Regions from separate parts of the Homo sapiens genome. Here regions 2, 3 and 4 are each reported to be linked to region 1. Evidence: microRNA targets listed by miRTarBase, many of them from high-throughput screens and not tested one by one. Region 1 holds a microRNA gene; each other region holds the end of a gene's coding sequence.

Evidence for each region. The annotated mature microRNA hsa-miR-1915-3p reads CCCCAGGGCGACGCGGCGGG and lies in region 1 at 1,209-1,228, shown strand. An mRNA with a match to its seed (bases 2 to 7 or 8) in the 3' UTR can be bound and repressed. Matches are read on the target gene's strand: a 7mer-m8 pairs with bases 2 to 8, a 7mer-A1 pairs with bases 2 to 7 and ends in A, and an 8mer does both.
Region 2: miRTarBase lists CBX6 as a target of hsa-miR-1915-3p. Seed matches in the 3' UTR shown: 7mer-A1 at 2,087-2,093, 8mer at 2,027-2,034, 7mer-m8 at 1,926-1,932 and 7mer-m8 at 837-843.
Region 3: the mRNA of MYL9 is a reported target of hsa-miR-1915-3p. Seed matches in the 3' UTR shown: 7mer-m8 at 936-942, 7mer-A1 at 1,101-1,107 and 7mer-m8 at 2,382-2,388.
Region 4: the mRNA of NDRG3 is a reported target of hsa-miR-1915-3p. Seed matches in the 3' UTR shown: 7mer-m8 at 1,892-1,898.

Annotation. Positions count from the first base shown.
Region 1 is chr10:21,494,214-21,497,803 of GRCh38, reverse strand. It overlaps MIR1915 (microRNA 1915), which reads left to right and starts at 1,163; the gene lies at 1,163-1,242. MIR1915HG (MIR1915 host gene) reads left to right here and starts at 544. Exons shown (of 2, transcript NR_160800.1): 1 at 544-1,054; 2 at 1,859-3,590. RefSeq lists silencers at 1,064-1,313, 1,524-1,573, 1,624-2,063, 2,877-2,976 and an enhancer at 2,488-3,281.
Region 2 is chr22:38,862,880-38,866,469 of GRCh38, forward strand. It overlaps CBX6 (chromobox 6), which reads right to left. Exons shown (of 5, transcript NM_014292.5): 5 at 1-3,590. The coding sequence ends at 3,330. Among named protein-coding and RNA genes, the nearest start is that of CBX6, 7.5 kb to the right of the region's middle. RefSeq lists enhancers at 1,173-2,052, 2,053-2,930, 3,049-3,590.
Region 3 is chr20:36,548,512-36,552,101 of GRCh38, forward strand. MYL9 (myosin light chain 9) reads left to right here. Exons shown (of 4, transcript NM_006097.5): 4 at 566-2,936. The coding sequence ends at 738. All of the region lies in intron 2 of DLGAP4-AS1 (DLGAP4 antisense RNA 1), which reads right to left. Among named protein-coding and RNA genes, the nearest start is that of MYL9, 8.8 kb to the left of the region's middle.
Region 4 is chr20:36,650,643-36,654,232 of GRCh38, reverse strand. NDRG3 (NDRG family member 3) reads left to right here. Exons shown (of 16, transcript NM_032013.4): 16 at 532-2,462. The coding sequence ends at 713. Among named protein-coding and RNA genes, the nearest start is that of SLA2, 6.2 kb to the right of the region's middle.

The sequences.
Region 1 (3,590 bases):
CTCGTTATTTTTTTTTGTTCAAAGACAGGAAAATAAAGATCAGAAATAAGCAAAGTTTCATTTTGAAGATAGAAAGAACCAAACAAACATGTCTTGACTTTTGCAGTATTTCCCTTGCTAAAGGGGGAATGAGGGAACTGTAAAAGACGTGACTTTGCAAAGTCAAGTCCTTTTTAAAAGACTCGGATCGAAATTCTTGCTATGCAACAAGGATTCAAGTTTGATTAATTTTCTGCAAGCGACGTGACAGCGGTGTTTTAAAAGATTAATTAAAATTGAAGTGATACGGAGCAGGAATTCAACCTGCAGAGGCGTCCCTGGCGCCTTGGGGGGCTTTGTAAGCGAGTCCCAAGCCCGAACTGCGGGCTTTCCCGAGCCTGGGACGCAACTCCCCGTCTCCTGGAGAGGAACGCGGAATTTGGCAGGGCGCCCGCCTGGCCGCCTGGCATCCTGAGCTGGCCGCCAGCTCTCGGGGGGTGGGGACTGGGTGTGTCCTGGGGAACCCGCTGCCGAGAGAGCAGCTAGCGCAGCTCGCGACGAGCCATTGAGGACCAGGGTCGCGCCGAGAGGCCGGAGGGGGCTCCAGGCAGCCTGGAGCTGACGGCGCCGGGCTGCGTCCTCTTCACCTGGGGGTGGGGGGTGGGGGCACGTACTTTGTGACCAGGATGGTGCCGAGCCCCCTCTACGGCGGGAGCTTGCAGGGGTGCGGGGGTGTGACTGGCGCTCCGCGGACTCGTGTCCACAGTACAGAGGACATGTAGGGTTCGGCCGGGGCGCGGCTGCACCGGGGCCTGCCTCGCGGACCTGGACTCGGGACTCCGGGCGGCCCTGCCTGGTGCCATTGCCTCAGCCAAGTCTCCCACCTCTCTGCTCGGTTTCCCGCCCCACCTTTCCCCTACTACCGCATCCCTGTCCCCTCGCTTCCCTCCGCGATGTCTCCATCCGAGTAAGAAACGAAGCTGAACGCATTGGTAACTGTGCTCAAGAAGATGCAATCGCGGGAGCCCTCAGGGTGGCGCACGGCGGAGAGGCGACGCGGGTGGCGCTGCAGAGGGTACGGTGGGGGGCGGGGAAGAGGGGGGCGTTCGTGTGCAATTAGCCTCCCCAGGGCGCGGACCACGGTGTCCCCTTCTCTCCAGCTGGGGGTCTCGGGTCCTGGCGCTGAGAGGCCGCACCTTGCCTTGCTGCCCGGGCCGTGCACCCGTGGGCCCCAGGGCGACGCGGCGGGGGCGGCCCTAGCGACCTGCGGCGGCGCCGGGAAAGCCCTGCCTCTGCAGCGGGTCCCAGGGGTCGGGGCCTGGAAGGGTCCCTGGGAATGCTCCGCGCCGAGAAGGCTCTGTGGTTTCTCCTCCCCCACACGTCTCCCTCTCCTCCCCTCTTCCCGGGGACCTCAGAGGTGGCGGGGAAGTGGGAAGGGAGGCGGGCTTGCAGACCGTGCAGGCTGGGGAGCCGGAGCTCGGGAGTTGGGGGAGTCCGAGTGAGAACGGAAGCGCGTGGACGCGATGGAAGGGGCCGGGGGAAAGGGGGACGGCACTGGGGAGGGCTGGGGTGCGGGGCAGGCGACAGTCCCTTCCCCTCCGAGCGGCGCGGGGGACCTCTTCCCCGGGGAACCCCCACCCAGCCGTTCCCAACCTCGAGAACAAAGGGTCTGGGAAGCACGGTCGGGGTCGGGGAGCGGAGGTGGAGGGAGGCAGGAAGGCAGGCGGTGGGGGCAGGGGAGGGCGCCTCCCCACGTTTCCTCTCGCGGCCGAATGATGGAAAGCTCCCTCCAGCAAACGCCTCACTGAGGCCGCTTCTGAATCCGGGAGGGTTCGGGTTCGTTACCTAACGGCTGCACTTCGCTCCCTTCCTCCCCCAGCGTCCCCACCCCCTCCGGGGACCGGGGCCCCGGAGCTGCCAGGCCCGCTGCACGCGGCGGCGCGGGAGAAACCACGGGGCAGCAGCGCCCCCTGCAGGTGCCGGGCGCCTCCGCAGCCGCTGCGCGGACCCGACTCTTAAGGTGGCACCACCGGGTTCCCAGCCCGCGCGCAACCCGCAGCCCTGGCTCCATCCGCCGCACTTCTCCCTGTAGCGGCGGGCCTGACCGTCCGGAACGGCCGGAGTGTGCTGATGCCTGCTGCTATCTGCTTGATCCCTTCACCCTACCTCTCATCCAGGACTTCTTCCGCGGATGCGCAGCTAGCGATTTCGACAGGCGAGATTGAAAATTCCGGGCGAGTATATGAGGTTGAGTAAGTCCCGCTTCAGGGAGGAACGACCAGAATGACATTTCTTTAAGCCTAAATCAAACTTTTATTTTCGTTTATAAAAAGCAGAAGGCCAGCAGGAAAGGGTCGCGGAGGACTGGCACATCCACAACCGTAGGACTCTTGGATCCAAGTTTTTAGGCTGAGACTGGGCGGTCCGGGGTTCTCCTTCGGCGCTCACACCCCGCAAACTCGTGGGCAGTGCAGTGCTGGAGGCCGGGGGCAGTGGCGGACCCGCAGGGTAACCTTGTCTCGCGCACCTCCCGAGCCCCCAGCAGCCCACTCTCGTCCGAATGCTTTGTTTATTTGGTGACACCAGGGAACGTGGAGAAGAAGATCGAAGTTCAGTTTTTCTTTTTTCTTTATTTTAAATATTTTTCTTAACTAAATGGTATGTTTATGTGAACCCATCATCTCTTGGAATTAAGTGTCCTCAGCGAACTCCAGATTCCTAGGGGAAACCTACGTGCCCAGAGCAGGAAACGCACAAGTCAATTCAGGTTCCGGTGCCATCCGCAGTAAATTCCCTTCCTTTTGCTCCAAATTCCTCCTCTGCGTCCAGGAGAGGGACCCCCGGGACTCCCGCACACCCAGGACCGGGAGCGGCAGAGCAGAGGGCGGGTGCGAGGGCGCGAGGGAAGGGAGGCGGCCTGCGGACCTGGGGCGCGCAGTTTCCCGGCTCCGTGGGAACCTCCAACCCCGGGGCGCGCGGCCTAGGCTCCGCCCTGCCAGGCTTGGGGCCGAGCGGCCCACCTAGTGGGTCCTGACCTGGGGAAGCCGAGTCCGCGCGCGGGTCGGGCCGCGACGAGGGAAGCTCGCCTGGGCAAGTGCCGCGCGGGGTCAGACCCACCCCAGGGGTTGCAAACCGCAAGCGAAAGTCGAGAGGGGCTGGAGCTTTCCCTCTGATCCGTTTTACACTGTGAAAACCGCAGGCCTGTCGCCTAGGCGGCCACTTTTAAATTGGGAAGCAAATAGACGAAAAACCAAAACAAACGTACGAGCTGACTTTTCCCAGCTAAGTTTCCCCTCAATAAAAAGCCCGCTTTCTGGGAAAGACAGAAACTGATCCGCGCTCACGATTGCTTTCTTGGAGATTCTGGGGGCACTGGGGCGCGCAGGAGGCGCGGCGACAACCCCAGCGCGCATGGGGCAGCCTGGACTGTGCCCCTCTTACCAAGCTCCTTCCCAGGCTTCTCCGTGCTTCTCTCTCCACTGGGGTCCCGCCTCTCCACGGGTCACGCCGAGGCTATATGCTGCTTGCAAGGGGTCCGCGCTTTCTCGTTCGGCGGGAAAGGCACATGTTGGAGCTCGATGTTGGGGCTCAGGGTGTGGTTGATTTGTCTG
Region 2 (3,590 bases), not on the chromosome of region 1:
TCCCCCAGTGAAGCAGCTGCGCTTCTCCAAAACCATTTTCACCTCTTCAAAAAGGGGCCATCCCCCCAACTCTGTCCACCTCACACTGAAGTTGGGGACTTGATCATCACCTCTTCCCAGATCATAGGAAGGATGAGGCTCATTTTGACCTTGACCCCTTTGCAGGGTGAGAACAAAGAGGGGTTGTGGGCAGCTGGGGGCCCCAGTACCAGCAACCTTGACCCCCCACCTGGTACTGGGCAGCTGCTCTGACACCAGCAGCGCTTTCTGAAGAGGGCTTGCTACCCAATACACCCATTTCACAGAAGGGCAAACTAAAGGTCAGAGTGGGCACCCAGACAGGGATGGGTCCCAACTTACCGTCTCAAACCAGAGACACCAGACCTCACCGGTTTCCTATGATACTTGGGTGGGGAGGGGGCGCACTTAAGGGGAGATGACGGATGCCCCAACCAATATTGAACGTAGGAGGAGATTGGGCTTTGGGGGTTATTTCACATACAAAAATAAAGCAAACCAGATTGCAACTTCTGCTTGGTAATTAGGCAAATGGAAAGCAGCAAGGGTGGACGAGGGGCCCATGGAGGCTGATCTCCCAAGGGAGGCCGATCCGTGCAAGTGTGTGGGAGGCGGGGGTACTAGAGAGGGGAGGAAGGAGGCTCCACTCACCCTCGGTCCCATCCACTCGGGCCCCCATGGGCACTGCCCACCTCAAGGCGGTGTGCCTGGTGCCTCTTCATGCACCAAGGCTGGCCCGGGCTGCTCCACTTGGAGCTCAGGCCAGCAGAAGCAGACCACCTGTGGCAAGGGAAATGCATTCCCTCTCCCCAGCCACCCCCAGGGGCCCAGCTTCTTGCCTCCTGAAGCCTGCATCCCCTTTCAGGCCAGGGAGGCTCAGAGAGGTTGTGGGCTTTAGGGTGACCCGTGGGGAGGGAGGTCTCCCCCATAGGGTGGCGGTGGTGGGGACCAGATGGCCCAACAACTGGGAAAGGAACAGAAGGGGGCAAGAAACCAAACTGCCCACTCACCAGCCCCCTGGAGAAAATCACCAGTGACAACCCCCACCCTCCCAAACCTCAGCTTGCCGGGACCTGCAGCTTGGGTTAGCTCCCGGGGGCCCGCTGTTGTCCTTCCCTTTGAGCAAGCACGGGTGTGGAGATCTGGGTCCAGGCCCTCTCCACAGTGCCTGCGATGCCAGGGGACCTGCCAGCTGGGCCCAGGCCTCCGCCCCATCCTGACATTGCCACCTCACCTGTGCAATCACTGCGTTACTATTTTTTCTTAAATAGCTCTTTCTCCCCCGCCACCCCCCCATAGGAATCCCACAATATTTTTTTCTATTTCTTTTTTTTTTCCTCTTTTTTTGTTTTTGTTTTTTTGCAAAACTAATTCTTTCACTTTCCTGTCATAAAATCACCTCTGAAAACACAACTTCTTTACAAAAAAGTCACGAATGACACGAACTCTCAGGAAAACACATTTCTATGGTCTCTGGAAACACCTGTAACTGGCACCCAGGTGGTCACTCACCTGGGGGAGGGGGTCAGGGGGAAATCACCTCCAAGGACAGAGGAGAAATACCAGCCCTTATTTGGGCGAAAAGCCAATTGGCACTTGGACGGCCACAAAGCCAACACACAGGGCAGGGTAGGGAGGGGCCGAGGAGTATCAGCCCCCGCCCCAACCCTGCGAGGGTCCCCGTTCTACATCCCGGGGAGGGGAGGGCTAGGGCCACGCTGTGGGCCCTGGCAGGGAGATTGGGAAGGAAGGCAGCCTCCCATTCTTAGGACCAAAGGCGCTAGGGTTCTGATCGGCCTCCTGCCAACGTGCTTCTGAGGGAGGGGCCCATGGCAGCACAGCCAGGAAGCCAGCTCCAGCCACGCCTGGAACACGCCACCCACGCACAATGGAGACCCGGGAAGTGGCCCAGGGCTGGCCAGCGGGGCCCCGGTCCCAATTCTGGGACCAACACCCTCATTCTCCTGGAGAACACAGACCCTCTGGTCTCCCCTTTGCCTGCCTGCCCTCCCAGGGCCTGGCCTAAGGCTGGGGCTGTGGCCTCTGCCACTGGCACGGGTGCCTCAGCTCCCAGGCAGCAGAGGGAAACAGAAGCTGCCCAGGACACGGGAGCCTCCTTTGCTTCAGGCAGGCTGGGCTGTGAGAAAGCCTCCGTGGTCAGAAGCAAAAGAGGGGCTGGGACAAGCCGGGAGGCCCTCGGGAATGGATTCTTCAGCATCCTCCCCAAACACCCGGAGGAAGAGGGAGCTTGGAATGGGGTCTCCCTCTCTATCTCGGTCCCCACCATGATGTGAAGTGAAGGTCCGACAGGTTGGGCTGACCACCCTGAGGAGGGCAGGGGGGTGGGGGGCACGGTGCCCCCAGCACACCTGGGCCAGGAGGGGAGGCCTGGTGACTTCCACAGCAAACCTCCAGACCCAAGCCTGGTCCCCAGGCCTACTGAGGCGAGAGGCAGTCCAGGCCTTCAATGCCCCTGTTCAAAGGAACTGTAAAGGGTGCCACCCGGCAGCCTGGGGCCTAGCACCCAATGCATGTATGAACCCACGGACAAACACAGCGAGTGGGGCAGACGCACAACTGGAAGTTTCCACGGCAGGTTCTCGTAGCACCTTTGGTCAAGAACTGAAGGGGCCTTTAGATGCGGGGAGGCTGTGGCCAGGCGCACCCTCTGCCAGTTCCTCCCACCGTTGAGGGGGTTAGGAAAGAGCCAGGGCTGGGGCAGGGCATAGGGGGTCTACTTAGGCCTCGTCCAAAATCGAGCAGGGAAGACCCCGCCCTGGCCCAACTTCTGATGCCCTGGCTGATGTGGAGGGAGGAGCCGAGTCAGGCCTCATCCTTGGCCTCTGCCTGGGACTTTGCCAAACAGGCAGGAAGCCCTCCTCCTGCCTAGGCATCTGCAGGAAGGAAAGGGACTGTGTCCACCCTCGGTGGGGGGCTCCTAAGGGCCCCACAGCTGCCAGGTTAGCACCGAGAAATCAGACGCCGCACAGGAGAGCAGGAAGCAAGCTAGAGAGACAGGTGGGATGTGGAAGGGGCAGAGGAACCCTAGTTTCTAGGGCTTTCCAGAAACCACCCAGTGGGCTACCATGCATGGGCAGGGGGTGTGCCCTTCCCCTGCCCCATTCCAGGGTGGCCCCTACCCCCGGCTTTCTGGGACCCCAACTACCCAGCCCCATCCCTGGGTCAACACCGAGCCATTTGAGACAAGCAAAGCACAGGGAGAGAGGGCTGGGGGCAAGGGTGGGGTGGGAGCAAGAGTATGACTTCGGGCAGGAGGGCCCCCCCAAGCCCCCCTCCTTGGTGGAGCCCCCTCACTTGCTCGCCCCAATGCTGCCACCGCCCCCAGCGGCGCCTGCTACCCCAGCAGCCACCTTCTCGAAATCCTCAGGGTTGCAGAATTCCTTGATTGTGACCGTCAGGAGGTTGCTGGTGACATCGGTGACGACCACATTGGAGCAGGGTGACATCTCGGGGCGCCAGTCCCCAGCCTCGGGCTCGGAGGAGGCACCGGCGGGCTCAGGGGCCGTGGGAGGTGCCGGGCCGGCAGCAGCTGTGACCTCAGGCGGTGCCCG
Region 3 (3,590 bases), not on the chromosome of region 1:
CCTAACGGATATTCCATCCCTCAGCTCATTTTTCCCAGGGACATGTCAGGGTGATGATGGCCATGGTAACATGGCCATGGGCCCGCACGGGCCTGACTACCTTCACGGTCCCTCACTGCAATGGCATACGTTCATCCCTGTTTTCTAGATTAAACAGGCACACGGAGGTTAAGGACCTTGCCCAAAGTCACATAGCTAGGGAGAATGGGAATCAGCACTGCAACTCAGGCAGTGGAACTCCAGAGCTCACGCTTAAAACAGGGCACACCCAACACCATCTGTGTGCACAGCCTCAAGTTCCCCAAGTGACACCTCGGAGACAGTCCCACTGCACAACTCCTCCCCTCAGGACCCTGGCACCCCTTCACGTGGGATCCGACACCCCTTCACGTGCACCCCCACACCCCTCCTGCCACGTCCTCATTCCTCAGACTGACCAGAGACTAAGATTGTATCTTCCCAGCCCCTCTAGGTCTGCAAGAGCTGCCAGGGGGCTGAGGGATGGGGCTGCTGTGTATGTCTCAGCCCAAGTTCCTGCTCTCACCCACCCTGCCCCTGCCCGCAGGTTTCATCCATGAGGACCACCTCCGGGAGCTGCTCACCACCATGGGTGACCGCTTCACAGATGAGGAAGTGGACGAGATGTACCGGGAGGCACCCATTGATAAGAAAGGCAACTTCAACTACGTGGAGTTCACCCGCATCCTCAAACATGGCGCCAAGGATAAAGACGACTAGGCCACCCCAGCCCCCTGACACCCCAGCCCCCGCCAGTCACCCCTCCCCGCACACACCCGTCCATACCAGCTCCCTGCCCATGACCCTCGCTCAGGGATCCCCCTTTGAGGGGTTAGGGTCCCAGTTCCCAGTGGAAGAAACAGGCCAGGAGAAGTGCGTGCCGAGCTGAGGCAGATGTTCCCACAGTGACCCCAGAGCCCTGGGCTATAGTCTCTGACCCCTCCAAGGAAAGACCACCTTCTGGGGACATGGGCTGGAGGGCAGGACCTAGAGGCACCAAGGGAAGGCCCCATTCCGGGGCTGTTCCCCGAGGAGGAAGGGAAGGGGCTCTGTGTGCCCCCCAGGAGGAAGAGGCCCTGAGTCCTGGGATCAGACACCCCTTCACGTGTATCCCCACACAAATGCAAGCTCACCAAGGTCCCCTCTCAGTCCCCTTCCCTACACCCTGACCGGCCACTGCCGCACACCCACCCAGAGCACGCCACCCGCCATGGGAGTGTGCTCAGGAGTCGCGGGCAGCGTGGACATCTGTCCCAGAGGGGGCAGAATCTCCAATAGAGGACTGAGCACTGCTTCTGGTCTGTGTGTCTGTGGCTGGGGTGAAGTAAGGGGACCCCGGGCCTGAAACCCTCTCCCACCTTCTCCTGCCATCTCCAGTTACTGCCCTGCTCCTCCCACCCTGGCCCAGGGAAGGACTGGGTGTCCTCCGGCCATATGGTCCCTGAAGCCTCTAGGGACCAGAGTCCCTAGTAAGTGGGCTCTGTGCTCAGCTGAGACCAGCAGGGGACAGGGGACGGAGGGAATGGGCCTCATGGCCTTCTCAGGGCTTGTGGGAAAGGGAGGACCATGGGAATCACCACAGCCAATCCCGTGGAGGGTTCCAGGCCTCTTGGGGGGCAGAGGTCAGGCCACACAGCCCTCAGGACTAAAGCTCCGGGTTCCAGAAGAACAGGGAGGCTCCAACAGTGATGAGGCAGGCGTCCCAGCAGCTCAGGGTTGGAGGTGGGAATGAGGGGTTTCCCAGCCCCAGGCAGGTGGAGGGCGAGTTCAGCCCCAGGACCAACAGCATGGGGGCCACAGCTTTCCATGTCCCTGTGTACGCAGGGCAGGCAGGGCCGGGACCCCTGCTACTGGTGGATGATGGGGACACTGATGGCAGTGCCTGGGGCCTAAGAGGGGCAGAAAGAGCGCTGAATGACTGAGCAGAGAGTCCAGAGGGGCATGGACTGCCTGGGTCACCCAATAGGCCTAGGGAAGAGTGAGGGCCGGACCCACCCCACCTGACCCCAGCGAGTGGACCCAGCTTGGTCCTGAGGCCTTCTCCAGAGGTCACCCAGCGCAGGCAGCCGCAGCACTCAGCAAAGGTCCCAGATCAGGGCCAAGGGGGAGCTGAGCACCAGGGGACCCTGTGCCTGACCAGGAGGCCCTAACCTCCTGCAGGCCTCAACGCCAGGCCCTGCTCAGAGCTCGGCTGAAACTCCTCATCCTGGCTCCAAACAGAGGCCCAAAAGTCCCTGGTATCAACTCCAGAAGGGGCGAGACCCGAACAAGTTCCAAACCAGGCCCAAATAGTATCCCAAACTCAGTCCCAAACACATTCTCACCCCCGGCAGCAGGCTGCAGGCCTCCAGCTACACACACGGCCCTGGGCAACTCTCAGTCTGGCCACCCATTCGATGCTGCCAGCCCCAAGGGTGTGGGAGGGGGGTCTCAGAGTGTCCCAGGGTACTGGCCACACATGCCCGACACCAGGGTCATAAGGTCCTCTCAGCAGAGCCACTGCAGCACCAAAGGCATTTCTGGAAGGAGGCAAGGACGCGTCATCTAGATGTCAAGCCCCAGCGTGCGATTCTGTCACAGTTCACCCCACCTTCACCCCGAGACGGAAGACGGAAGAGCTTCGCACACAGGCGGGAAGAGGTCAGGACCAGTCCAGCCTCACTGGCTTCAGAACTGGCCTGGGGGCTACCTTGACCCACAGGAAGGGAAGAGGAACGTGCTCTGGGCAGGGCAAGGCAGGACCTGCAGCACCCACAGACCAGCAGTAAAGGACCCCCGGAACTTTCCAAGTCTAGCACAAAACCCAGAAGCCACAAAGGAAAATACTGGCAGATTTAAATGCATGAAGTCAACATTCTTTTTGTAGAGCTAAAGAAACCATAAGCAAAATTAAAAGCCAAATGCATTCTGGGAGGAAATACCTGCAGCATATTTAACAAAACAAGAGTTAACACTAATCTATATAAAGCTTCAGTAATTGAATCAGAAAAAGACAACGCCGTAGGAAAAAAATGGTAACATGAAAAGGAATCTCAGAAGAAATGCATATACTTATTTTTTTCTTTTTTTTTTGAGACAGAGTCTCGCTCTTTCTCCCAGGCTGGAGTGCAGTGGCGTGATCTCGGCTCACTGCAACCTCCGCCTCCCGGGTTCAAGTGATTCTCCTGCCTCAACCTCCCAAGTAGCTGGGACTACAGGTGTGCGCCACCACGCCCAGCTAATTTTTGTATATTTAGTAGAGACAGGGTTTCACCATGTTCGCCAGATGGTCTCCATCTCTTGACCTTGTGATCCACCCACCTTAGCCTCCCAAAGTGCTGGGATTACAGGGGTGGGCCACCACGCCCGGCCAAAATACATACACTTAATAAGAACATTTTAAATACTCACCAAATACATTTTTAAGTGCTCAACATCATTGTAAAACTGTAAAATTTTCTATTTTTTCCTAGTATTTGTCTAGCTTTTTCAGACTGGGTCTTTCTGTTGCTCAGGCTGGAGTGCAGTGGTGTGATCATAGGTCCCTGCAGCCTAGAACTCCTGGGCTCAAGCAATTCTCCCACCTCAGCCTC
Region 4 (3,590 bases), not on the chromosome of region 1:
TTGAGGTCAGCTCCAAGCCAATCTGCCCTCCCCTTCACCTGCACCATCCTACAAATCTCCTCCCTGGTAGCAAGGTAGCCTGTGGACACGGATGGTAGTCTCGTTGTATCGGGCTTGCACTGTGTTTGTGAAACACCTTCATACTTGTGTGTGTGTCTTTCTTTTCTTTTGGTTTAGTCTTGCATGCACTGTAGGTTTTGGTTACCTGTTTGGGTTCCCAAAGCCTCCATTCTGTCACTGTCTGAATGGTGTGGGCATAGTTAAGAGGCTATACTCTGGATTTAGGGTTTCCCCTTGTTCTGCGGTGACTACAATCAGCTGAGATTCCAACCAGATCTAAAGGATTAAAGTGGCCTCACATATCGCCACTCACCTAGAGCAAATGATACAAAATGGGGATGGCTATATCTTGTCCTGGGTGTCATGGTAAATGAGTCGGAAAAGCTAAACATAAAGACTTTGATGAGACTCCTAGGTTAGCTGGGCTTAACCGGGGCTTCATCTTCTAGTCCCCTTGGTTCTCTGTTACAGTACCATCTGCCAGCATGACTCGGCTCGCCCGATCACGAACCCACTCAACCTCGAGTAGCCTCGGCTCTGGAGAAAGTCCCTTCAGCCGGTCTGTCACCAGCAATCAGTCAGATGGAACTCAAGAATCCTGTGAGTCCCCTGATGTCCTGGACAGACACCAGACCATGGAGGTGTCCTGCTAAGCAGATGCTCCTCCCCTGGACCATTGCAAGTCCATCCTTCAAATGACCACTCCATAATATAACATTTCATCCAGTAAACTGGCCTCTACTATCTTTAACTCATGCATGGCCACTGAACCTCTCTCTAGTAGCCTGGATTTATCATTCTCTCTGCCTGCCCACCCCCTTTTTTGTATAGCCCAAGAACCACTTCCATGCCATACTGTAACATTCCAACATCTTTAGCTGATCAGATCTCTCCATATCCTCTCTTGCCAGCTTTTTCCCGTGCTCCCCCAACTATGTATCAGATAAGATTCTTTGATCCCGACTCTGTGTGTGCGAGCACGCGTGTCTGTGTTTGTGTGTGCATAGTTCTGTGGTTTTAGACACGCTTTCTTGTAGTGCTTCTGCAAAAAACAAAAAAGGGACTTATTTTGCATTCTCAATGGTGTTTTTAAGGGAATTAGGCAGAACAGATTTCTAGGTTGGGTAGGCCACTGCATTCTCTTTTGTTTGCAAATTGGTCAACAAAATTTGCAAAGTGATTTCAGGAGAGAGCAGCTTTGAGGAATGTGGAAAATCATAATTGCCGTCTGGACCATTGATTGATTGTGACCAGTAGCAGAAGGGTGCCTGTTACATAGAGAGGCTCCTTCTGTCCAAATGAATTTCTGTATACTCTTCTATAAATAAAAGGGAGGAATATATTCTGCTGGAAGCCCATGAACCATCGCTGAGGTTCTGATACAACATAGAGTTTTTTCCAAGGAGTGAATGTGGTTTAATTACTGGACTCTCTTAGCACAGGAAGGTGGAAACAAAATGCCAGGCCTCTGCTCTGAAGAGCAAAACTGCTGTCGCTGCAGTATCTGATACCAGACATCCACATATCCACAAGAAGTGCCTCTTAGGTCTGTGACAGAGAGTGTGTCTCCATTCCTCAGTTCCCAGAAAGGGGAGAGGTTTGGCCTAAAAAGCATGTAGATGGGGGAGAAATGGGTGGGGGGAGAGGAACAGCCATTAACACAGTATCATGTTTAACAAGTATAGCCTTGATTTCAGTAGATGTAATGGAAGCCAAATTAAATTGATACAGAACCCATTTCTCAGAGTCTTTTTTTTTTTTTGAGACAGAGTCTCGCTGTTACCCAGGCTGGAGTGCAATGGCGCAAACTTGGCTCACTGCAACCTCTGCCCCCTGGGTTCAAGCGATTCTCCTGCCTCAGCCTCCCGAGTAGCTGAGACTACAGGCACCTGCCACCATACCCAGCTAAGTTATGTATTTTTAGTAGAGATGGAGTTTCACCATGTTGGCCAGGCTGGTCTCAAACTCCTGACCTCAGGTGATCCACCTGCCTCAGCCTCCCAAAGTGCTGGGATTACAGGCATGAGTCATTGCTCCCAGCCATTAGAAAGATTGTTAATCCTATGAACTCCCTTTTGTAGGAGAGAAAGGGCCAATCTGTAGGGGTAGCCCTGTCCAGGTAAAGTTGTTTTCAGCCTCATGTCTACTGTTAGGTGAGGGAGTCACAGCCAGACAGAGAGTATTGCTGGAGGGTGAGAGAATTGTGGAGACCAACTACCACATAGCAAGAGCCCAGCTCTTGGGAGCATTGAGATGTAAGCTCAGGGTTACACAGTTCCAAATCTTGGGAAGGGGCTTTTCAGACAGACTGTTTGCTTTCTGCTGAGATAAGGAATGCATCACTCTGCCAGAGTATGACTTTTTACAGATTATTAAATAAAGCTGCATATGTCTCATTGTTACCTGATTGCTGGTGTTATTTCTTTCAAGCCATTCACTGGGGTTCAGGGCAGGACCGAGTTGCTGTATGCTGGTTCTGTGTTGCCATTTTCACATGTGATTGCTTATCCACCAAGCGACACTGTCCATTTATAGGAGGAAATGAAGACTGATGATAAATCATTTGCCCAAGGTCATGCAGCCAATAAGTCCAGCCAGGATCAAATCCCAGGGAATTATGCAGAATTCTATCTGATGTGTCTGTATTTCCCTCAAGCCAAAAATCGTGAGAAGCCTGACAGTGTTGTTTGTGATGGAGGAGGAGAAGCTGAGGTCTTGAGAAGGTGGTCCACGTCACAGCTCCACCACCTGTGTGGGATTGCTGGGTTCCACCTCTCATTTTAATAATCTGCAACCACTTGTCTTCTAAGAGACCAGCTTGTGTTTCTCCAGAAATGGCTATATTTGTACCCATCAAGAATAATTTCAGACCGAGTGCAGTGGCTCACGCCTGTAATCCCAACACTCTGGGAGGCCAAGGTGGGCGGATCACCTGAGGTCAGGAGTTAAAGACCAGCCTGGCCAACATGGTGAAACCCTGTTTCTACTAAAAATACAAAAATTAGCCAGGCATGGTGGTATGTGCCTGTAATCCCAGCTACTTGGAAGGCTGAGGCAGGAGAATCACTTGAACCCGGGAGGTGGAGTTTGCAGTGAGCCAAGATCACACCACTGCACTCTAGCCTGGGCTACAGAGCGAGACTGTCTCAAAAAAAAAAAAAAAAAAAAAAGCCAGGCATGGTGGCTCACGCCTGTAATCCCAGCACTTTGGGAGGCCAAGGCGGGCGGATCACTGGAGGTCAGGAGTTCGAGACCAGCCTGACCAATGTGATAAAACCCTGTCTCTACTAAAAATACAAAAAAAAAAAAAAAAATTAGTCGAGCGTGGTGGCATGCACCTGTAATCCCGCTACTCGGGAGGCTGAGACAGGAGAATCGCTTGAACCCAGGAGGTGGAGATTGCAGTGAGCCAAGATTGCACCATTGCATTCCAGCCTGGGTAACAAGAGTAAAACTCCGTCTCCAGAAAAAAAAAAAAAAAAAAAAAAAAAGAATAATTTCAGAAGACCACCATCTCAGATGAGTTTTCA